Linked DNA regions of Homo sapiens. The protein of the gene in region 2 binds, or shares a complex with, the protein of the main gene of each other region. Each region holds a gene or a part of one and is shown on either strand. Other genes may lie near its edges.

Region 1 (7,035 bases), on a different chromosome or scaffold from region 2:
TCCTACCTCAGTGACCTCAAAACACAAGGACATCTCCATAGGGCATCAACATGCATCTGTCATCCAAGAATCTAAGAACTTCCTGATCCTTCCACATTTTCTATCAATAATATTGCCTTCTGAGGTTATGGATTCCAGGTCTTCTATGAAATAGGTAAAGCTTCCTTTCGCGTTCCAAGAAATATAGTTTGCGAAGGGAACTGGAAAACGTGACTCTAGGCCTCAGCCACTTCCTCTGTTACCCTGTGCAAGTTGTAGAACAATCCACGTTCTCACAGCTCCCCTTCTTCAGTTGTGGAGTTCTTCAAGGTGGACAGATCACACCTCAGGAAGTCATCCCTTGTAAGCACACTAGAATTTATCATAAAGGCAGGTCGGCTTGTTAGTTTTTCTTTGTCCCCAGCATACACTGAGCCAACAACTTAAGTCATGAATGGGTTGTTTAGGGCTCTGTCTGTCCTAAATGATTCCTAAAAGCTTCATATAGCTCATATAGTCTTATTGTCCACTGCTCTTTTGGTGTGGTATGATCCTACCTGTAAAGCTATCAAACCCCTGGGTCCTGGATGCCTCCTCCAGATTTCATACCTTCCTCAAGTTTACTAAATACTTTCTGAATTTAAGAATTTTGAGAAAGTCACCTACCAGCTAATGCAAAAACACAGCCTAATTCTGTGTGAATCCCTGTTGAGATCAGCTTTTCAGGTCAGGGAGGGAAGGTATGGGGTTTAGGGTACCCTCTCCTATCACACACATCCCCCCTGCCCACAGTACCCTGACCTACCTTGCCTGAGACTCCTAGACACTATGAGCTCCCTTCTGGCTGCCACTCAGACTGGCCAGGAAGGCTCCCAGATTGAACACAGGTGACCTGGTATAGATACACACTGTACTGTGGGCCAGAACCATGGACTACATTTTAAGCCATGTTGTGGGCCCTTCCTGCCTACAGAAAAGGACACTTGAGTGGAGTCACACTTGGGTTGCCTAATTTATTACCTTAACTAGAAACATTCTAAGTATGGGAGCCTGTTCTGGAGGATAGCTTCTAAACCAAATCTAAAACTATCTTTGCACACAAGTGTTGTGAAGAGGTAAGCAGGGGATCAGAGCTCCATCTTCTGTGACCACTTCTCCAGGGACTGCCACCTATAGGGCTCAGGTTGGTACCAACAGCCCTGCATAGTAGAGTCACTGTCAATCATCTTCCCACTTGTAAGCAGGAAGACAAAAAGTCTCATGAAATAGAAACGAAAACACTGAAGCATGGCCTTCATCGTCCTAATGCCACAAGTTTCCTGGGATGGCCAAGATACTACCTTAGCTTATTGTCCCTGCTTCACCTCCAGAGACTGGAGACAGAGGATTTTCCGGGGTTGGGGTTTCTTCTCTGACTTGGCAAATTCTTCTTTTTATCTCCAGCTGAACCACCAGTTCCTTGGGTAGCAGAGCAGAGACCTAAGCACAAACCACAGGGCTTACTAGCACATCCTTCAAGCCACTTCCTTTGCTGTTCTATTACTCTTCTTCAGCTTATCTGAACCTGCGGACTCTCTGGATACAGAAACTGCCCAAAGCATGGTGAAAAAGACAAAGGGCCCAGGTTTCACCTGGCAACCACTGCTCCCAACATCTAGAGTAAGTCAAAGAGGCTGAAAGATGACAGCCTAGTTCTCTTTGCCTTCATTATGATACTAACAAAAACCAGAAGTTTCCAGGAGTCAGCAAGCTACTCAGTATCTGACGTGGTTTCTAAGGTGGAGTTGCATGGGGAGCACTCTCCCGTGGCTGCTGAGTGAAGGCAACAGTGATGTCCAAAACAAGCCCGTCCGGCTCTGAACCACCAGTTGGCAGGCCAGGATGACTCCAGTCTTTAGCAAAGAGCTTTCCATTCTAACTCCCGAAATCCCAGACCAGATGGATGTCTCCTCCCAACTAGGCGCAGAGGGTAGCACAGACTTCCAAAAGGAAACACCTTCATTAAATGCAGCAGGCAGTCCTATATGCTGACCCTTGGGTCAAACCACAGCTTAAGCGGGGGAAGAAGTGGTTCTGATCCATGTACAGCCAGATCTGCTGAGGAGTCTGGGGTTCCCAGGAACCAGATTTGCAGATCCTGGACGATGGTGCTTCCCTTGCTGGCACCGTATCACCTAACCTAATGGTTTCTCTGAAGACAGTTGGCGGAGAGGCAAAAATGACTGTCTTAAACAGGTCTTCCGACACGTGGACAGCTCAGCAGGACCACACACCTGTCCAGGGCCCACCATGAGGCAGCCATCACCAACTTGGTAAGGAGGACATATCACACAGCATCTTCAGGGTGCTGGAGGCAGGCGCTGTGGCAGGAGAGGTAGTGAAGAAGGGTCAAAGCTTTGACAGGTTATCATCATATTCAGACCCTCTATCCCAATTATCCCAACTCCTGAGAATTTATTTTAAAGAATTAATTCTCAATAGGAAAGAAGTTGGATACACAAGGACACATGTTCTAGCTGCCAAGTGGTTAACAGAACATGGACTCTAGAGTGAGAGACTCAACTTTCCACTTTTTAAGGCAAGTGCCTATGTTCTCTGAGCCTCCTTTTCCTCGCCTGTAAGAGGTAGATGACAGCATCTACTTTCCAGGGTCACCGTAAGGATTAAATGAAATAATCCACATAAAGCTCCTGAGTTTAATCTGTGCTCAACAACAAAGGTCACCTCATATTATTACACATGAAGACAGAAAAGGAATGCAGAAAAAAGGAAATAGGTGAGTTTTTAAGGGCAACAGAACAGAAGGGAAGATTTCCGTGACTTCTGATTTTGAGGCCTTAGACATGTAGGTGTGGGGGGATGCCATCAATGTTGAGCCCTGCAGCTTAAGAATAAGGAAGCAAGTAGAGAGGGTGGCCTTTTTTACCAACGCTTTCCCCACTTTTCTAAATTTCCCCCTTGGGAAACTCCTAAGAGGTCTCTGAGAATGTAGTAAAGGAGGGAAGGCCAGGCGAGGTGGCTCATGCCTATAATCCCAACACTTTGGGAGGCCAGGCAGGAGGACTGCTTGAGCCCAGAAGTTTAAGACCAGCCTGGGCAACTTAGCCCATCTCTACAAAATTTTTTCAAACATTAGGTGAGCATAGTGCTGCATGCCTTATAGGCCCAGCTACTCGGGAGGCCGAGGCCACAGGATTGTTTGAGCCCAAGAGGTTGAGGCTGCAGTGAGCCATAATCACACCAATGAAGAGGAGTTTGACAATCAAACCTCATGACTTCAATCCCAGCACTTTGGGAGGCTGAGGTGGGAAGACTGCTGGAGCCCAGAGTTCCAGACCAACCTGGGCAATATAGCAAGACCCCATCTCAATCAAAAACAAAAACAAAACCTCATGGGCTTCCCTGCCCAAAGGCAGGGCTGTACACAGATGATCACTCTGTTCTGATTATGAATACACCTTAGAGTGAGCCAGCTTGCCCACAGCCTGCTACAAGGCTACAGTGAGGCCCACTGCCAGAGGCCTCCAGCTAGAGGTGCTGCTTGCCAGGCTGACAAGGTCCTGGTATGGCCAGCAGGACAGAGAGGAGAGAGAACTTATAACCACAGGCAGGGAGTCCATTTTTTGGACCCTGATGCAGGGCACAACATAGTCTCTGTCTGTCCTCTTCCTCCCTGCAGCTTCTCAGCTGTGATGAGTACACAATAGTCCATTCCCATGAAGGAAACACATAGTAAACACCAATCAGTGCCAGAAACAAAACAGATAATTAAGTGCTTATACAGATCTTAGAGAAGTCTAGTTGGTGTTCACTTTTCTTTTTAAATTCATTCCATCCAAAAATATTGCAGTATGGAACCCCAAAATAAAAAATGACTGTTTTAAAATCCTAACAATACCATTATCACACATTAAAAAGGTTAACAATTCCGTAATATCAACAACTATCCAGTCAGTGTTAAAATTTCCAATTGCCTCATAAATGTCAAAAAAATGGGTAGTTTGTTTCTAAGCATTAAAAAACGTCGGTTTCCAAAGCCTGAGGAGATTCTGATCCTGCCACCACAACAGTCACTGAATTAAGTCAACTTCCTCTCTAAACCAGGTAAGAAAACCAAAGCCCAGAAGGATAGGTGATTTGCCCAGGATCACACAGCTGGCTGAAAACAGATGACCTGACCCATAGTCCAGTGCTCTGTCTGGCAATCTGAACAGAGCTATTAGAAGCTTCTGAATCAGCAAGAAGCCTTAATCTAATAACATCCCCTTGCTTGTTGGAAAAGAATCACCACCTGACTCCTCCTAGCAATTACATATCCACTTTATTTTATTTATTTATTTTATTTTTTTGAGACAGAGTCTGGCTCTGTTGCCCAGGCTGGAGTGCAATGGTACAATCTCAGCTCACTGCAACCTCCGCCTCCCAGGTTCAAGCAATACTCCTGCCTCAGCCTCCCAAGTAGCTGGGATTACAGGTGCACGCCACCACATCCAGCTAATTTTTGTATTTTTAGTAGAGATGGGGTTTCACCATTTTGGTCAAGATGGTTTCGATCTCTTGACCTCGTGATCCACCCGCCTAGGTCTCTCAAAGTGCTGGGATTACAGGCGTGAACCACCATGCCCAGCCTACGTCCATTCTATTAAGATGAAAACTAATCTCATGTTAACATCATCAGTTAGAAGGCCAGACCTTGATCTTTATTCTGTGCTTCAACTGAGCTCCAGAAAAGGGGGATTCTCAATGACCTCTACTCTCTTCTCAATGGTAACTGGCTGGCCCAGGCCATGGCAAGCTGAGACGGATTACCTAACACAGGAGGAAGGGATCACGTGGCAGGATCTGTGTTCTAGTTGTCCATCAACATGGCATCAGCAAACGAAGACACCCTAAAAACAGGCCCAAATGGCTTTGTAGGTCACTTCTATCAACCCATCAAGGAACTATCATTTCTGTACTATAAAACTGTTTTAGAGTATGAGAGGGGAAAAGCACTTCCCATCTCATTCTACAAGGATTGAATTACCCCTTTTACATAACTAGACAAAGGAAAGCACACACACAGAAGTAGGGGGTGGAGGGGAAGAAAACTATGGGCCAAAGCCTGAGGAGATTAATATAGACGCCAAAATCCTAAGTAAAATAAAAGCAAATAGAATAGACATGCTTTTCTTTTGAAATGCTTAGCTTCTTTCTTTTTTCATTTCGTTCTTTTGATAGGGTCTTGTTGCCTTTGTATGTATAATAAAAAGAATAGGACACACTGAAAAAGCCACTGCATCTAGAATTCACACAGTTTGATATTAGGAAACCTATTAAAGTAACTCATCATTTTAACTGATTAGAAGGAAACGTTGGCCGGACATGATGGCTCACGCCTGTAATCCCAACACTTTGGGAGGCCAAGGTGGGTGGATCACTTGAGGTCAGGAGTTCAAGACAAGCCTGGACAACATGGTGAAACCCTGTCTCTACTAAAAATAGAAAAATTAGCTGAGGGTGGTGGCATGAGCCTATAGTCCCAGCTACTCAGGAGGCTGAGGCAAGAGAATAGCTTGAACTTGGCAGGCAGAGGTTGCAGTGAGCTGAGATCGTGCCACTGCACTCCAGCCTGGGTGACAAGAGTGAGACTGTCTCAAAAAAAAAAAAAAAAAAAAAAAAAAAGGAAATGTTTATCCTCATTCATTTCATGTGATTCTAAAAGAATAATGGAAAAAATTCAAAACTATCATGAGAAAGGAAAAGAATGAAGATTATCTTAGCAAACTAGAAACAGAATTGACACTCCCTTAACTTCAAGATCCATACTATCAACCCATAACAGAAGGCCAGCGTAGGATAGACAAATTCAAAACTACAGAACAGGCCCATATGTGTTCAGTACTTTAGAATGTGACAGCAGTGGATTTTAGATGAGTGGAGGAATGATGAATGGACTCATCCTTACCTCACTTAACATACAAAAGTGAACTATAAGGAATTAAAGGAAACAAGCAAAAGCATTATAAGAAAACACAAAGAGAGAGTTTCAATATGGGATGACAGAAAAGTTCTGGAGATGGATGGTGGTGATGGCTGTACCACAATGTGAATGTGCTCAATGCTACTGAACTGTAAGCTTGAAACATGGCTAAAATGGTACATTGTATGTTATATATGTTTTACCACAATTCAAATTTTAAAAACAAAAAGGATTACTTTTATATTCTTGTGATAGGGCTAGCTTTCTTAAGGCATAAAACTTTGGAGCTATAAAGGAAAATATTTGAAGATTTTACTATATGAAACATTTAAATGGCTGTATGATCTAGAAATAAAAGTTAAAAGACTGACTGACATTCAATGAATGCTTCAATAGAAAGAAAAAAAAATATGAGCCACTGACAGGAATAACATATATGTAATTTGTGTAACAGATAAAGATTTAACATCTGAATATACAAAGCCACTATAATTCAAAGAGTATGACAAACATTTCATAAAAGACATAAAACTTCTTAAGTAATCAGGAAAATGCACATTAAAACAATTTCATTTTTCACCCAGATTAATAAAGTTAAAATTTTGATTTCCACAAAATATGAAACATATTTTCATCACCGTGGCTAGAATTGTAAAGTAGCAAAAACTTTTTGAAGGGCAGTTAGTGAGCAGCTGCCCAGATATTAGAGGTACACATCCTCTACTTATTCTCTGGCCTGGAGAAATGCTCCCAGAGGTACACAAGAATAAACAAGTGTTCACCAGAGCATTATTTAAAATATCAAAAACCAAAATAGAACCCAGCTATCTACCTAACAGAAGGTGGTGAAATACATCTTCATACATCTACTCAGTGAAATACTAGCCAGCCTCTGAAAAGACACAGACAGGGAAACGTGTCACGACATGATTTATAAAAAAAGGCAAGTTACAAAACAGTCCATACTCTGTAATCCCATATTTGTACAAAATAAATAAAATAACATACTTTGTGTAGAAAAAAAAATTTGAATGGATCCATATCAGGCTATTAACAGTGAACATCATCTCTAGGAGTAGCATCATGGGAAACTT
Region 2 (5,324 bases):
TTTTTTTTTTTTGAGATGACATCTCACTCTGTTGTCCAGGCTGGAATGCAATGGCACGATCTCAGCTCACTGCAACCTCTGCCTCCCGGGTTCAAGCGATTCTCCTGTCTCAGCCTCGCATGTAGTTGGGATTACAAGCGTGTGCCACCACTCCCGGCTAGTTTTTTTGTATTTTTAGTAGAGACAGGGTTTCACCATGTTAGCCAGGCTGGTCTTGAACTCCTGACCTCAAGTGATCCACCTGCCTCCGCCTCCCAAAGTGCTGGGGTTACAGGCGTGAGCCACCACACAAGGCCACTTTGCCTTCTTAATGGATCATAAACTAACCCCACCCTCTACCAGACCTGGCTGAGAAAACAATTCCTAATATCATAGCTACAGTAGGGAAATTTGGTCCTTTCATGCTGTTTGGAGGTGTTTAAATATAGGTTTCATCATTGGATGACACTATTCTTCAGTCCAACACTCAATATAACAGGATACAAAATACATCAGCCGTATTAAAGGGAAATCATTCATTTATTAAGGATCGCAAGACAACATCTTAATTTCTGTAGTACGATTTAAATGTTTTACTTCTTTGATAAAGCAGAGTACAATAGAAAAAAAACAATTAGTTTCCAGTAATATCTATATCTCTAATCAGAATTAAGTCTTCCAAGACATATTACCTGGAAATAAAAGCCTGTTACAATAAGCAAAGCTTCAACCAGAGCGGCTACTTTTCGTGCCAGGAAAAAGTTCATCCCTATAGGAGGAATGATGTGCTATGTAAAATGGCTGTAAGGTCACAGCCTTGAGGGCATTGGAAGTATATTATCCTATTCCACATTAAGTATTTCAGCGAATTTCAAACATCAGTTTATCTGCAACCATGCTGGCAACCTTTAACTGATATTTCAATCAACCGGTAAAAAATAAATTAAGAAATCCCTTCACGGATATTCCGTGATTTACACTGTTAAAAGGTACACTGTTCATTAACATGTAATTCTGGTTCAGAATTACCTTTGAGACTCCTTGCTCAAAATTTGGTTAACAGTAAGAATCTTCCAGAAATTCAAGTTCTTATTAATCAATAATTTGTCAGCTAGGATACATTCAGGCATCAGCTGCAACTACAGAATAGGTGCACAGCCTCAGCGCTTTGGAAAGACATAATCTAGAACACTACTAGCAGACAAAAAATTACCTGCAACTGGATAGCGTAAGTGCAGTATAGCGAGACAAAACATATATTCATATGTTGGCTTGTTTAAGCCTCAAACCCTCGACCCTTTGTTGAGATCCCATAATTTTATTCCTATGATTTTAATAACTCAAGTTCCAGGAGGACTATAAGTCTAATTTGTACTCCAAACCAAACAGCAGTGCAGTTCGCTACTACTGAGGCTGAATCTGTACAGACTTCAAGACCAAGTCCAGAAGACAGTTATTATCTAAAAAATAATTACTTGAATACATAGATGATCCTTCAGAGATTTTACCTATAACCTATTTCTTGATGAAGGTTATTTAATGCACTGGAGATAACTGTGACTTACTGATCAAATACTTGAATACTTATACTTACCTGGGATTTCATTTCTGCTGAAAGAAATAGGAAGAACAGGACTCACTTAAAAAAAAAAAAAAAAAACTTTAGAAAGGAAGGTAAAAATCTTACACACACTATCACTTTTGGAAGCAGCATAGAAGGGGCAGTCAAGGGTAAAACACTGGTGAAACAGGTCAAAATTAGGAAAAAAAAAAAAACTATATTATTATCAATGACAGTACCACAACTGTGCCCTTGATAATTAGTAATCACTCCTAAAAATCTTCATTTGGCACCAGATGGTGTGTTTAAAACACCCTAGGATGTTTTGAATCAGGCTTGATTTTGTTAGTTGAGTTACAGGAGAATTTTAAGGGTGAGGGTATGGGGGTCAGGGAAGAAAAGGAAATGGGAAATGGACCAGAAAAAATCTTGAGTCATCATCTAAATCAACAAAGCACTGATAGCTCCAAATATTAGGTCAGACACTAAAACGACTGATATAGGCTCAAGTGGTTTATAAAACCTATAAAAAGACTACACCAGCAAAGTCCCTGTCAATCTGTCAGAGTTCAGAAACTAAAACAGGGAGTAACATTTTAGCTTAAAACCTTATCTCAAGAGAATCATATACACTTCACATGAATAAAAATACCTGAAACCAAACATTTTTAAAAGCTCCAGTACCCAAAATATAAAGAAAAAAAAATCCAGAAGACTGAATCAATCCATGGAATCACAAAGCGGCCGGACAATCTATATCTCCCCTCCACACTAACCATCCCATGGAAGACCAAGGGAGATCAGACCTTCCAGACCTATGCACCATCTGGTCGCCGCAAAATTCTACGGAGATTCCTTGTGGAAAAGCAGTTTCCCATCTTTTGTGTCTCTCCCTACCATGCAGGAAGCAAGTCTGGCTGTGCTATTCTATTACCATTATATATCACCCATCTGCAACAAGGTACTGTACAGACAAGTAAGAAGTATGTTATCTAGTTCCCTTTCCCCCAGAAGGTTGAGGCTCAGGTATAGGGGTAATTCTCCTGTGCAGTCTTTATTTATGCTGACTCAGTGACTTCAACAGGCTTAATCATGTGGTCAGGTTTGTTGCCAGCTGCATAATGCTCCCACATCTGTAGATAGAGCCGCTCTAGTTCCATTGTGTATTGTTTGGTGTTGAACAGAGGGCTAGATATTCTTTGCTTCCAGACTTTGCCACGAACTTTCTTCAGGCTGGGTAATAAAAAACAAGAACCCAGTTTACAAATCAGAGCAGAAACTCAGAAACACACCCTATAAATACCTAGTCGCATTTGTGGCAAAAAATGCATGACCAAACTCTACGCTATCTCATTTCTTGATTGGCTTCGTGCTAAAAAGGGAAGGGTCACATCTTGCATAATGCTAACACTGAAATGAGCTCAACTCCATATACTCTGAAAAAACTTAGTTCTTTCCTAAACAAGTATATCCAAGGGATACCACGCGTTCTCCATTTCGTCTTGTTTCTACCTTTAAAATAACAAGAATTGACAACGGCACATGACTATTCCTATGTACTGTTGCTTACCTTTTTGGTAAGCAATTTAGCAAGTATGTATTAACCTTAAATGTTCATAACCCTCTGGCCTAACAGTAACACTTTAAAATCTATTAAAAAGAAATAATCAGATGCAAAAACATACAGGACCATGCAAAGATATTCATTGAAGCATCATTTACAAAAGTTAAAGCATAAACATAAGATGAAGTATTCGATTTATGGTCATTTTGATGAAACAGAAAACCACTCAAGGGGAAAAGAAATACAATAAGTCTACTCTCGTAATTTTCCACTTGTACCTGAACTGAGTTCAGATTTTTAAAAATTGCTAATATCACCAAGAGTATGGTTCTGTTCAGAAAAATAAAAAAGAAGTAATTGATTCTTCAGGAAACACAGGGGAAAAGATTTCTACTTCCCTTTTGAATATATTTTTCATGAGATTATTCTTAGATGAAGGGATAAATACTTTAGAACCAGAAGCCAGAACATTTCTGTGCATTTTTAAAAGCAATAATTTTTATTTATTTTCTTTTAATTTTTGAAATAGAGTCTCACTCTGTTGCCCAGGCTGGAGTGCAATGGAACGATGATGGCTCACTGCAGACTGAACCTCCTTAGCTCAAGCAATCCTCCTGCCCCAGCCTCCCGGGAAGCTGAGACTACAGGCACGCATCACCACACTCAGCTATTTTTGTATTTTTTGTAGAGATGGGGTCTCGCCATGTTGTCCAGGCTGGTCTCGAACTCCTGGGCTCAAGCAATCCTCCTCCCTCAGCCTCTTAAAGCGCCGGGATTATAGGCATGCGCCACCACGCCCAACTTTGTTTTAATGTTTGTTGTGACAGAAGCAGTAAAATGGTTGTGCATATCTGTTGGTCTCAATACAACCATGTCCATATTAATGCTACCCTCCAAAGAGAAAGACCTGTGCACTCTATTTTTTTAAAATTCTATGCCAATAGGAAAATAAACTGTAGTGCATTCATACAGTGAAATACTACTCAGCAAAAGAAATAAACTTGATGAAAGAAGCCTTTAGAGTGCATATTGACATAGTTCCATTTGGATAAAATTCTAGAAAAGCAAAACTAATTTATGGAAGGGAAAAAAACCCTCCAGAACAGTGGTTGTCTCTGGGGGTTGGTGAAAAAGACTGACTGATAAGGAGCATGAAGAAACTCTCTGGAGTGATAATGTTTTTTGTCTTCATAGGAATTTGGGTTACAAAGGTATTTCTCGGTTGGGCACTGTGGCTCACACCTGTAATCCCAGCACTTTGGGAGGCCGAGGCAGGTGGATCACAAGGTCAGGAGATCAAGACCATCCTGGCTAACACGGTGAAACCCCATCTCTACTAAAAATATGAAAAATTAGCCGGGTGTGGTGGTACGTGCCTGTAGTCCCAGCTACTCAAGAGGCTGAGGCAGGAGAATCGCTTGAACCCAGGAGGCAGAGGCTGCAGTGAGCCAAGATCACACCACTGCACTCCAACTTGGGCGACAGAGCAAGACTCCGTTTCAAAACGAAAAAAAAAAGGGTTATTTCTCAAAACTCACTGAATATTTGTGTATTTCACTGTATATAACTTCCGCCTCAAAAGAAAAAAATGGCCAGGCGCAGTGGCTCACGCCTGTAATCCCAACACTTCAGGAGGCCAAGGCAGGTGGATCACTTGAGGTCAGGAGTTTGAGACCAGCCTGGGCAACCTGCCAAAACCCTGCCTCTACTAAAAATACAAAAATTAGCTAGGTGTGGTGGCTCATGCTTGTATTTCCAGCTATTCAGGAGTTTGAGGGGAAGACTGCTTGAGCCCGGGAGGCGGAAGTTGCAGTGAGCGGAGATCGTATCACTGTACTCCAGCCTGGGAAACAGAGGGAGACCCTACCTCAAAAAAATATATGTGTACTGAACTCCAGTTAATGACAGCCAATCTTAAGTATTTAAGGAGAAGTGTACTGATGTCTGCAATTTATTTCAAAATGTGTCCAATAAGATGGATTGGCAGATGAATAAAGGGAATAAATGGATGAATAGATATGTAATAAAGCAAGAATAGTAAAATGCTAATGGTAGATTCTAAGCAGTAGGTATAGATGTGTTTATTATAAAATTAAAAATTTTGAGAACAAAAATGTTGAGGAAAAGCATTGTATGAACCAAACTAAGTACCAAAGAGTCTAATAAAAATTTTAAAATGCACCACAGGCTGGGTGCAGTGTCTCACGCGCCTGTAATCCC
Region 3 (6,868 bases), on a different chromosome or scaffold from region 2:
TTTAACATCTCACGTTGGTAAAGCACCAAAGTCAAATACGAATGTTCTGAACGTGGCTTTCAGAAAAGATGCAAGAAAACTTCTAAAATACTTCACTTCAGTGGACTCATATAGATGGAAAGACCGAAAATCCCACCCTACCATAAAGGCTCTAATAATTCTTAACTGATCATTCTTTTAACTGGTCACAATCACAGACACTGGTATATACTCAAATGAGGTGGCCATCAGTGACAACCATCTTCACCATAATATAGACATTAAGAACCTTTGTAACATTTAATGTTTCCCTCCAAGTAGTTCAAAAAATAAAAAGTCAATCACCTCAAATTATGAGGTACTAACAAATACACCAAATATGCTAAAGGTCGAAGGAACGGCACACTTTGTTGCATAAACCTAGTGGAAATCCAATTCAGAATTTCATGACTGAAGGTAGTTATTCCACATTTATAATACATTTTTTAAATTCCCAAGGGATGAGCATTTTTACCTTGCCTTATTTTTAGAACTACACATCACACTGCACATATCACATGACATGATGTAACTGTTAGCAAAGAAAATGGTCCAAACCATTGACAATGTACATGGTAAATCAGGATCAATGCATACTCAAGAACCACATTTCGTATTTACTTTAAAAAAAAAGTTTCTTAATTCAAAATGTTTTTTCAAATTGAAAAAATGTCTAGTAACCTATGTAGAAAAAACCAGAAATGTACTTCGTATTTTATAAAATAGGAGTTTACCCAATTATGGGAAAAACTGATATAAAGAAACAGATAAAGGAATAACATACTTCTAAAACTACAGGATTAAAAGTAAAAATTTTCTAGATCAACACCGAAATGCTAATAAATACACTTAGCATTAGGCACAAAACAATTACTACTCAAAAGTATTCACTGTTGATAGGTTAAAAAAATAGTTTTAACTGACAACGCCTGTAGACAATTGAAATTTTCTAAATTGGTCAGACAGCATGCTAGAAAAGGAACCAAGTAGAGCCTATAGGAAAGGGGAAAGGGAAAACACACCCACTTAAGCCTTTGTAAATAGTGGTCCTTTAACTGACCCAAAAAGCAGAGAAAACAGAAATTACAGACCATCCTGACAAATGGAAAACATATTCTAACGTACTAGTTTCCATACTTGAAAGGACTTTCAAAATGAAGTTCAGTAGCAATCTATAACTATATCATGATTATGCAAGGCAAAGATTATGTAATTTTATCGTTTATTTTAAAATGTTCTCCGACTCTAAAACTAAAACAAGTAAAACGTTTTGATCTCTCCAAAGCGAAAAGGAAAGGTTCCTCTGAGCTGCAATTTAAAAATATAAACACACACCCCAAAACAAACAAAAAAACACAATGATTGCTAGCCACGTGACAAAGGAGATGGCAACACCAGGATTGTGAATGGAGGGGAGGGAGGCGAGGCTGGAGGAAGAGAGATTTCTCGGAACTTTGGGGACCGCGGCAGTCGGTCTGCCGACCCTAGGAGCACTAAACTCCAGCCCCTACGAGTTGTGCTTCTAACACCCTCAAGTACAGTTTTATTAATAAGTCACAGAAAATGCTCCAGTGACCTCCAGGATAAAGGGGGGTGGGGGGGACCGAGGAAAAGGAAAGAGAGCAATTTAAAGTGGCGCCATCATGTCACCCCTTCTCCCCTAAAGCAATCAGTAAGCAATAGTTAAGTAGCACGTTTCTCTATAAATCCACATTGGGATTCCAACATTGGAAAACGAGGATTTTTAAGTAAGACACGGGAGTAGCGCTGTTTATCGTATGGAAAACAAACTATTTGCTAAGAATCAAAAGACCGTCAGCCGGAAAACAGGCCCCCAAAAAGGCAGTTAAGATTCCAACTCACTTAAAAGCAAATAAATCCCTCTTCCTCTTTAGTTTAAAAAAAAAAAAAGTCCGCCTGAGGGAGACTACATCTGAAAACGTAAGTGACCTGAATTTACAGGCAACAAAAATAATAAATGAAACAATCAGAGTTGTGATACAAACCGTGCAACGCGCCAAGATGTGTGTTTCGAGCAGAGAAAGGCCTTTTGCAGTCAAGAGAAGTTCAAGGCGAGAGCCAGAGTTTGTTTGGGGGGTTCTTTTACGGGAATAAATCATGTTCTTCAGGCCGCCTTTTTAAATAGAACGCCAAAGGAAAAGCTGGCGAACGAGGCGGCAGCTCCTGGGGAAGGGCCCCCGCACACCCCCGCCCTTGGGGCGACTCCCAGCCCGGACCCGCAGCAGGGAAGCCCGGAGAGGCCATTTAAAGTTCCGGGGGATTTTTCTACCCTGCCCTGCCTTTCTAGTTACAACTAACAAAGAGAGAGAGAAATGGGAGCCACAGGGAGAGCGAGGAGAAGGAGAAAGGGCAGCAGGAGGAGGAGGAGAGGAGCAGCAGCAGCACCTACCACGTGATGGAGGAGCGTAGCCCGGGCGGATTCAGCCCCACAAAATGGGCGCAGTTTGCAAACAGCCCCCCGGCCTGGGCGCCGAGGGCCAGCGGCGGGCGGGGGCGCGCGACGGCGGCTCCGGCCCGGGCCCGCCGCTCTCCTCCCCCCGACGCCCGGAGCCGCCCTGACTTTCCGGGCGGGGGGGCGAGGCAGAGGGGGAGGGGAAGGCGGCGGCGGGGAGCGGCTGCTTTTTCTTCTCTTTCGGGCCCTTTCCCGGCCTTGCTCCGCACCGACGGGGCCCGAGCACGGCTGGAGACCGCAGCCCGGCCGGGAGGGCGGGCGGGCGGGGGCAGAGAGTGAAACCGCCCCCCCGCCCCGCACAAACAAGCACCGCCGTCTGCAGCCCGAACCCGCACCCAGGCCGCCACCCCCGGCCGCCTCTTTCCAGCCGGGGAGCGCGCTTCAGCCGCCCCCCGCGCCGCCGCGGCGAGACGAGTCGGCTTCGCTACGGTGCTCGGTTCTCCCGCCGGCTCGGCGAGCGGTGGCGGCGGTGGCGGCGGCACTGGGAAAATGGCGGCCGAGCTCCTTTTCCCTCCCCCCCTTTAATCTGAAGCGGAGGGAGAATGGAGCGAGCGAGCAAGCGGGCGAGCGCCGGGGACACGGGGAGGAGGGACAGCAGCGCCTCCGCCGGCTGCGGCTGCGGCGGCGAAGGGCCGCTCCACCCCGGCGCGCCGCCAGGGGGCGCCCGCCGCGCCGCCCCCGCGGGCCGCCAGGAGGCGCGGCCGCCGCCGCCTCAGTCATGGCTCCTCGCCGTGGCCGATGTTTTTGTACCTCCATCTGCGGAGGCCGCGGCGCCCGGCCCCAGCTGCCCCGGACGTGCGGCGACGGCACGCAGCACTGCGGCAGGGGGAAGCCAGCCCTCGCTGCGGCCGAGGTGAGTCTAACCTGAGGCACTGACGCCGTCACATGCCCTCCGTGCTGGGGCCGGCGGTGCGGCTCGCCAGTTGAGGGGCAGGGCGGGCCGGCGCCGCGGAGCGAGAGGACGTGAGCGAGGAACTGTTTGCACTGTGTAGTAAAGAGGGTAAGGCCGTCGGCACCACACTATTCCAAGGCTAACCCTGCAGAAAGCTCCCTGACCAGTGAAGCGGCTTCCGCCGCCCGCCCTTTGTCCCTAGCAGCCAGCCTCCGTATACTGCAGCACGGCTGGGCACTAGCCCCAGCACCGCGCTCCGCAGCCACCAGAGTTGGGCGGGGTGGGGAGGGTGCACGTAGTCACTGCGCAGGCCCCAGCCAGGGCCCGCGCCGGGCCAGCCCGGGAAGGGACAGCCGGGAGCCAGAGGGGAAGTGATGGCCCCGCCGGCGCCGGGCCCGCTGGGAACTGTAGTTTTCGTGAAGAAACACGCGTCTTGTTTTGGGTGTCATGGCTTGGCAGATCCGCCAAAACAGGCAAATGGCATTACACAATGAGTATTTATGCTTCCTGCCGCCACCAAAAGGAAGTTCACTGCCATGCTAAAAGTTTAACAAAGAACTCCATAAAGAAACACAAGTCTCACAACAAAAAGCCAACTTCCCACCTCGTTACCAGAGTTGGTTTAAAGTGGTGGCACCTTATCATTTCTCATGACCAGTTTATCAGTACAGAACTTTATATTGTCCCCAAAATAGGACCTTTAAAATAATGGAACCTTTCCTAGACTTAAAGAATTCATAAACATAATGTAATACAAAGTGTCACACAAAGTGTAATTCTACCACCCTTTAAAGTTGCCAAAAGATGAGTGGAGTATCTTGAGATTTAAAAGACTAATCTAGGATTCATCAAAACTGGCTTAAATGACTGAAGAAAAAATCGTTCAAATCATTAAATCATCAAATTCGGCAGATAAGAAGGGTATGTATGCTCTACTACCAAAAAGGAAGACGCAAAATGCTTCACACTTTTTTGTGGCTTACCAGAACCAATATCCGGCATTATACGTCACTTCTGCTTATCAAAAAACACCCTCACAGTCGTTACAGAACGGTTTTAGTCTTCCCACAAAGTTACACTAACTCACCTGCCCCTGCAACATCTGCACCTAGGTTTCTGCGAATTTCCATTTGTACTCCTAAAATCACACTCTCAAGCATAGTCATAGTTCTCAAATACCAAAGGCAGGCAGTTTGGAGTCATAGGGTCAAATTACACAAAGAATAAACTAATATTTGTATACACATCCAAAAGAGGTCTTTAGTCTTGGATTTTTAATTTACAACCCTGGGGAAAAACTTTGACTTTTTTATTGTACACACATACACACATAAATAGTAATTCCACAAAATACAGTAGAAGGGTATTGGACCAACAGATGGCGAACTAGAGCCCCAATCTGAGGCTCCTGAAATCTAAATTAGCAGAATGAAAAATACCAAATAAGGCAAAGCCCTTTGCAGCGTATACTTAAATATTAAATTCAGACACACCATAACAAAATAATCTTACTGCTGCTCCAAATTTTTAAGACTGAACTGTCAGATTTAATTAGGCAACCAAATAAGCAAGATTATATGAAATATATTTTTCTAATGGATTAGGAGAAAACTGGAAAATGCTCATTTTTAAAACCATGTATTTGGGGGAACTATAAATTCCAGTTTCCCCTTTCTCTCATTGCTTAGTGCAAGAGTCAAGAGTTCACAGGGTTTATGGCACTTAAATCAGTCAACCTGTTGTATATTCTTATCTAAAATCAGACATCTTTCTTATTAGGCATCCACTTGTACTTTTATTTTTTTGACAGGGTCCTGCTCGGTTGCCCAGGCTAGAGTGCAGTGGTGCAATCAAACTCACTGCAGCCTCCCAGGCTCAGGCGATCCTACCTCAGCCTCTTGAGTAGCTGGCACTACAGGCATATGCCACCATGCCCAGCTGTTATTTTTTTCACTCCTTTTTGTTTTGGTAGATACAGAGTCTCCCTATGTTGCCCAGGCTGGTCTCGAACTCCTGGACTCGAGTGCTGGCATTACAGGCATGAGCCACCACACAAAAATCTTATGAAGAGAAACAAATTTTCTTAAATTTCCCCCCAAAAAATAGTGGATGTCCAAAAGGCTGATTGAAAACACCTACATACAAAATAAAACAAACAAACAAAAAAAGATTTAAAGAAAAAGGCCTGGTGCAGCAGCTCACTCCTGTAATCCCAGCACTTTGGGAGGGTGAGGTGGGAGGATCACTTGAGCTCCGGAGTTAGAGACCAGCCTGGGCAACAGAGTGAGACCCTATCTCTACAAACAAAATTTTAAATTAGCCAAGTGTGGTAGCATGTGCTTACAGTCCCAGCTACTCCAGAAGCTGAGGGGATTGCTTGAGCCTGGGAGGTCAAGGCTGCAGTGAGTCATGATCATGCCATTGTAGTCCAACCTGGGCAACAGAGCGAGACCATCTCAAAATGAAAAGTGATAAAAAAATAAAAACACCAACATATTTCAAATCACTCTTGGAATAGTCATGTTGACTCTCCAATATCCACTCTATTCTGATTAGTTTTAACCCATTCTCTTTGCCAATGATTGGTTAGGAATGGCCATGAGATGTGAGTAGAAGCCCCCTGGACAGCCTCCAAAAGAGAACTGTGAGAAAAGGTTCTTCAATCCTAAAAATGATGGAGGAAAAAACAGTCCCTCTTCCTCAGACAGTGACACCTCAAACTGCTACAGTCACCTTTGCAGCAAGCCTGAAGATGCCACCAACATCAAAGGGAATAGAGAGTTGGTCCTTGGTGATAGCATTAAGCCACTGTATCAACCAATCCTGACAATTTGTATGACTTCTGGATTTCCAGCCACATTACAACAATGTAACAATAAACATTTATTAATTGCTTAAGCCAATTTGAGTTAGGTTCCTTATATAATAAATGAAGTCAAAAAACAATGATTGAGTTCTAATGTTTTTTAGTATTTGTATCTTACTTTATGATTACAGTATTTTATATAACTAATCTTATTATTTCTTCCTCAGAAAAGACATTCCATGGCCAGGCATGGTGGCTCACACCTATAATCCCAGCACTTTGAGAGGCCAATGTGAGAGTATTGCTTGAGCCCAGGAGTTTGAGAACAGCCCAGGGAAAACAGCAAAACTTCATCTCTTCAAAAAATAAATAATAAAAAAATTTAGCCGGGGGTGGTGGCATACACCTGTAGTCCAAGCTACTCAGAGGCTCAGGCAGGAGGATCACTTGAGCCCAGGAGGTCAAGGCTGCAGTGAACCATGATCACGCCACTGCAAACCAGCCTGGGCAACAGAGCAACACCCCGTCTCCAAAAAAAGAAAAAGAAAGGAAGGGAGGAAGGAAAGAAAGAAAAAAGGAAAAGGTGTTCCCTCTTACACACAGCTCTGTATCCATCCATCTTTGTCTGTGTTCTCTCTACCTAGAAAAAGAGGACCATCCCTCATTACCACCATTCCTT
Region 4 (5,563 bases), on a different chromosome or scaffold from region 2:
TTATTATTTTTGACAGAGTCTCGCTCTGTCACCTAGGCTGGAGTGCATTGGCGTGATCTCGGCTCACTGCACTGTCTGCCTCCTGGGTTCAAGCGATTCTCCGGTCTAAGCCTTCCGAGTAGTTGGGATTACAGGTGCGCCCCACTGTGCTTGGCTAATTTTTGTATTTTTAGTAGAGACAGGGTTTCACCATGTTGGCCAGGCTGGTCTCAAGCTCCTGGCCTCAAGTGTTTCGCCCACCTTGGCCTCCCAAAGTGCTAGGATTACAGGCGTGAGCCACCGTGCCCATTCCAAGCTAATTGTTTATGTAAGAATTGCACATGGGCCGGGTGCGGTGGCTGACGCTTGTAATCCCAGCACTTTGGGAGTCCGAGACGGGTAGATCACCTGAGGTCAGGAGTTCTAGACTAGCCTGGCCAACATGGTGAAACTCCGTCTCTACCAAAAATACAACAATTAGCTGGATGTGGTGGCACGCGCCTGTAATCCCAGCTACTGGGGAGGCTGAGGCAGGAGAATCGCTTGAACCCAGGAGGTGGAGGTTGCAGTGAGCCAAGATCTTGCCATTGCACTCCAGCCTGGGTAACAAGAGTGAAACTCTGTCTCACACACACGCACGCACACACACACACACAAATTGCACATAGTAAAAGAATGGGAGAAAACAGATTTATAGTCTTAATGGTGTGAGAACACTGGTTTCTGTGGGTAGTACAGAAGTTTCCAACTCACCTGAAAATGAATGGTAGGTTGAGTGTATCCTGTGCCCTATGTTTCTGCTTAAATTGAGCAGCTTTATTTTATTATTTTTTTTTGAGACAGAGTCTTGCTCTGTTGCCCAGACTGGAGTGCAGTGGTGCAGTCTCGGCTCACTGCAACCTCTGCCTCCTGGGTTCAAGCAATTCTCCTGCCTCAGTGTCCTGAGTAGCTGGGACTACAGGTATGTGCCAAGACGCCTGGCTAATTTTTGTATTTTTAGTAGAGATGGGGTTTCACCATGTTGGCCAGGCTGGTAATTTTTTGTGGAGACTGGGTTTCACCATGTTAGCCAGGATGGTCTCAATCTCTTGACCTCATGATCCGCCCACCTTGGCCTCCCAAAGTGTTAGGATTGCAGGCGTGAGCCACTGCACCCGGCCTGAGCAGCTTTAAGTAGATTTTAAAATTATATATATTCTTTAATGTGAAGATGTTGTGATTCTCATTTTTGGTGATTAGCACACCAACAAATGGGAAAGGATTGCAAATTCTTAGATTTATTTAAAAGCGTAGAACTAAGCTTCTCGTGAAGCTAGATGAATAGAAACACGGAGCATCTATAAACTGGATTAAACATAGGGGGGTACAAACCTCCTGGATATTTTTAATTCTTAGGAAGAAGGAGAATTTAGCACCAGACTCTTGAAAAGCAGTGGCATGAAAGTTAGTTTGATATATTGTTTGAGTTTGTATTGCCTTAGGCCCTGAATCAAGACCAATGGTTTGCTGTAGCTGTTGGTTTCAAACAGGAGCTAAGAGTGATGTCTTCCTTGTGGTCTGTTGGCTATTCAGTATTCCAGTGCGAATTGCCAATTCAGTTGGAAGAAACATAGTCTAGAATGTAATGTCATTTTTTTTTTTTTTTTTTTTACAGAGCAAAACTATGTTAGGCTTAAGAACCAGGGAGTTGGCCGGGCGTGGTGGCTCATGCCTGTAATCCCAGCACTTTGGGAGGCTGAGGTGGGCCAATCACTGGTCGGGAGATCAAGGCCATCCTGGCTAACATGGTGAAACCCTGTCTCTACTAAAAATACAAAAAATTAGCTGGGCGTGGTGGCACACGCCCATAGTCCCAGCTACTGGGGAGGCTGAGGCAGGAGAATCACTTGAACCCAGGAGGCGGAGGTTGCAGTGAGCCGAGATCACGTCACTGCACTCCAGCCTGGGCGACAGAGCGAGACTCTGTCTCAAAAAAAAAAAAAACAAAACAAAAAAAACCAGGTTGTTGCTCTGTCGGGATAGGGACTTAACCAAAATAATATTTCCTAGCCATTCAGAGGAACTGTGAGTTTTCTGTTGTCCTTCCTTTCTTCCTACCTTCTCCCTTTCCCTTGTTGGAGCTTGTTTGCTTGCTTTGTGGCTGTTAGGATATTAATCAGGCAATCTTGTATTACCCAGCAATATTTAATTTTAACGTAGCATTGTTCATATTTAAATTAATCACTGGTGAACTTACATGTTCATTACAGGTAGCCTCAGAGAATATGCTTTTTTAAAAAATATTTTTTTAATTGTAGTAAAACATACATAACAAAATTTTACTCTTTTAACCTATGTATGTATGTGTGTAAGTAGGTGGGTAGGTAGAGATGGAGTCTTGCTGTGTCACCCAGGCTGGTCTTGAATTCCTGGCCTCAAGTGATCCTCCCACTTCGGCTTCCCAAGGTGTTGTTATCATAGGCATGAGCCACTGCACCTGGCCGTTTTTAAGTGTACAAGTCAGTGGTGTTATGAACATTTACCATGTTGTACAGCTATCACCATTTTCTGTTCCAGAACTTTTTCATCAACCCAAACAGAAACTTTGTACTTTTTAAACAGTAACTCTCTCCTTTCCCTTTCCCCTGTTCCCTACTATTCTCCGTTTCTACTTTGTGTTTCTGTGAATTTTCCTAGAATTTTTTTTTTTTTTGAGACAGGGTCTGGCTCTGCCACCCAGGTTAGAGTGCAGAGGTGCAGTCTCGGCTCACTGCAGCCTCTGCGTCCCAAGCTTGAGGGATCCTCCCACCTCAACCTCCAGAGTAGCTGGGACTACAGGTGTGTGCCACCGCGCCTGGCTTATTTTTGCAGTTTTTGTAGAGACGGGGTTTCACCATGTTGCCCAGGCTGGTCTTGAACTCCTGGGCTCAAGTGATATGCCTACCTTGGCCTCCCAAAGTGCTGGGATTAGAGGTGTGGTGGCCAGAATTTTGTTTTTTAATCTACTGTATTGGTCTATGTTTTACACTTGGCAGCAAAAGCTCTCAGTGCTTTTGGATCTTGTTTCATTTGTTGGACGCTCTTGTAAAATTTTTTTTTTATTAAAGGTAGGCTAGGGTTGAGGGAGACAGCAGAGTATTGCTTTAAAGTTTGCTGAAAAACATGCCAACTTTATTACTGTTTCCCTTGGTATTGCTGATGGGCTTTTCTCTTTTTTCTAGGACTTGGATGTTGTGGGTGATGGTATGCAGTGTCCTCCTTCACCTTTGCTTTTTGATCCTTCACTAACCCTTGAAGATCATTTAGTCAAAGAAATTGCTGAAGACCCAGTGGATATTTTGGCAAGTGAAGAACAGTCCCACCTGTTTCCCTCATGTAGTGACCTGGCCAGGCAGAGGGTTCCCTGCTAGATAGCATGTGCTCCTGGAGGGGAGTGGGGTGTCATCACTAGTATAAAGATGCTCCACATGTCTCTCACTTATTGAATACCATATAAGCAAAGCACTTTTAAAAATGCCCTACTCTGCTCCTGTGTACCCTTGTTGCTGTAGTTCTCCAGATGGGCTCTTAGAACACCTAATGGCCCGTGATCCTCATATCCCAGAGTAGGACATACATTTATTTAAATAAAAGCTTGAGACAAGGAATCTAGGGAAATCATACCTTCTGAGGGAGAGTTCATCACTGAAATTGTTCTCATTGTAGAAGGACCAGTAAAGTAATGTGATTTGAGTTCTGTCCGTGAGCCTTGGGTAGAATTCCAGTGGCCCTGACTGAAGACCAGCAGTTGTACTGTGGCTGTTGGTTTCAAGCAGAGGCCTAAAGGACTGTCTTCCTGTGGTCTGTTGGCTGTTCTGGGACCTCAGTAGGGAATGGCTATTTCATTTGGAAGAAACAACCTACAGCTCACCATCCCATTGGAAGAGGCTCAGGAATAGGCTCTTCCAAGGGACTAGGATAGCTAATATGGGAAGAGCATCTGTCCAGAATTAATTTCTGTTGTATTGTTCTTATTGCTAGTTTAAGTGGCCACTGATAAGTCAGATTCATACTTCAGACCACAGTGAATGAATTACTAACTGAAGTGCCTTTATTTCTTTTAACAGGGCCAGATGCAGATGGCTGGAGATGGGTGCAGATCCCAGGGATCTCGAAATTCTGAGAAAGCCTCTGCACCATTGTCTCAGAGTGGATTGGCTACTGCAAATGGGAAGCCAGAACCCACTTCTATTAGTTGATAGTTTGGGGAACCATTTTACTTTGGTGGATTTAAATTTCTCGTTCTTCAAAGAAGTATTTCTGATCATCTCTCACAAAACACAGGCAACCCAGACTACCTTGTTTTTCTTCTGGATTGAGTATTATAGTCAAACGTAAAGCCAAATTTTGAGGACGTGGACCGTGGGTTTCTTCCCACTCAGGGCAAGGAAGAGAAAGAGAGATAATCCCTATCAAAGCTTCTGGGATTATTTGGGACTATACCTAAAAGGAAAGTGACATCTTTGTAATGGGATTTCCCAAGTCATGGATAGAAATCCACTTAAGTAGCTAGGTGGGAGCTGTCTTTGTGAGTGGTGTCTTTGAGATACTGATGGCCCTAATATCGGTTATCTCTATCTGAAGACCTGCAGTTTAGCTTTTCTTCACCTCTACTTAATTGGGCAGTCTTTAACCCCTTTCCCTGGTGAACTCTGGCTTTTTATCCTCTGAGAAAACAGCCCACAGGACTGGGTCCTCCTTATCCGTCTTGCTTTTAACCTATGTAAATTTCTGTGGTTGCTATCTTATGTAAAATATAGTAAAAATTTATTGTATATAGTTTCTATTAAATGTTAAAGAAAATGTTATGAAAATATCAAACAGTCACCTGAATTGAATGCATGTTTTGTTTGAGAATATAGTTTCTTTTTCGCGGTTTTGGGGACCTGTCTCTGATGGGAAAGGGAAGTTGGGACAGATGATACTTCCATCCCAAGAAGTAAATAAATCTTCAGTAGCTCATTTTGGTTTTGCTTTGAAGGAAGAAGTAAATGAAAAGGGGCAGGACTTATTAAAGCCCATCAGTTCCAAATATCTTTCTTCTTTTTACCCTCCACTCTGTGTCTCCTACACCCACTCCCATTTCTCACGATTAATGCCAATGCCATCTCTGCCAGACGTGGTGGCTTACGCCTGTAATCCCAGCACTTTGGGAGGCTGAGGTAGGCGGATCACTTGAGCTCAGGACTTCAAGACCAGTCTGGGCAATGTGGTGAGACCCTGTGTCTATATTTTTAAATTTTAAATAATTATTTTTAAAAAAATAATGCTAATACCATCTCAGAATTCTCTAGTGGTAGGAATATACTTAAAACATAGAGAAATTGGGCCTGATGCTGGATCACTAAGATAGACATAGATAGGTATTGTCAAGATCGTTTTGACACTGAATCTTAGAGCAGGATTAAAATAGAAGTTCAGTTAGGGTTGAGGTACCTATGCTAGAAATTGTCTATTTCTATACTGCATTATGACAAGGAGGGCAAAAGATTACTTTCTATAAGAACTGAAATGGGCACAGAATGGCTTACAGTTATACCATCATCTTAACTTTAAGCATTTACAT

Evidence for each region.
Region 1: OGT (region 2) and KANSL3 share a complex: the UniProt entries of both Homo sapiens proteins name them as parts of the NSL complex.
Region 3: OGT (region 2) and KANSL1 share a complex: the UniProt entries of both Homo sapiens proteins name them as parts of the NSL complex.
Region 4: OGT (region 2) and KANSL2 share a complex: the UniProt entries of both Homo sapiens proteins name them as parts of the NSL complex.

The regions. Positions count from the first base shown.
Region 1 is NC_000002.12:96,593,293-96,600,327, forward strand, and holds part of KANSL3 (KAT8 regulatory NSL complex subunit 3), read right to left. Parts: exon of another isoform or gene 6,834-7,035; coding exon of another isoform or gene 6,774-6,833; exon of another isoform or gene 6,361-6,773; intron 4,869-6,360; exon of another isoform or gene 4,789-4,868; intron 2,340-4,788; coding exon 2,319-2,339; 3' UTR 1-2,318. UniProt on the Homo sapiens protein: Non-catalytic component of the NSL histone acetyltransferase complex, a multiprotein complex that mediates histone H4 acetylation at 'Lys-5'- and 'Lys-8' (H4K5ac and H4K8ac) at transcription start sites and promotes transcription initiation.
Region 2 is NC_000023.11:71,571,069-71,576,392, reverse strand, and holds the end of OGT (UDP-N-acetylglucosamine--peptide N-acetylglucosaminyltransferase 110 kDa subunit), read right to left. Parts: intron 2,774-5,324; coding exon 2,599-2,773; 3' UTR 501-2,598; downstream 1-500. UniProt on the Homo sapiens protein: Catalyzes the transfer of a single N-acetylglucosamine from UDP-GlcNAc to a serine or threonine residue in cytoplasmic and nuclear proteins resulting in their modification with a beta-linked N-acetylglucosamine (O-GlcNAc).
Region 3 is NC_000017.11:46,190,395-46,197,262, forward strand, and holds the start of KANSL1 (KAT8 regulatory NSL complex subunit 1), read right to left. Parts: upstream 3,036-6,868; 5' UTR 2,429-3,035; intron 2,389-2,428; exon of another isoform or gene 2,025-2,388; intron 1-2,024. UniProt on the Homo sapiens protein: Non-catalytic component of the NSL histone acetyltransferase complex, a multiprotein complex that mediates histone H4 acetylation at 'Lys-5'- and 'Lys-8' (H4K5ac and H4K8ac) at transcription start sites and promotes transcription initiation.
Region 4 is NC_000012.12:48,652,677-48,658,239, reverse strand, and holds the end of KANSL2 (KAT8 regulatory NSL complex subunit 2), read left to right. Parts: intron 1-1,457; exon of another isoform or gene 1,458-1,592; intron 1,593-3,179; coding exon 3,180-3,299; intron 3,300-3,709; exon of another isoform or gene 3,710-3,858; intron 3,859-4,064; coding exon 4,065-4,196; 3' UTR 4,197-5,029; downstream 5,030-5,563. UniProt on the Homo sapiens protein: Non-catalytic component of the NSL histone acetyltransferase complex, a multiprotein complex that mediates histone H4 acetylation at 'Lys-5'- and 'Lys-8' (H4K5ac and H4K8ac) at transcription start sites and promotes transcription initiation.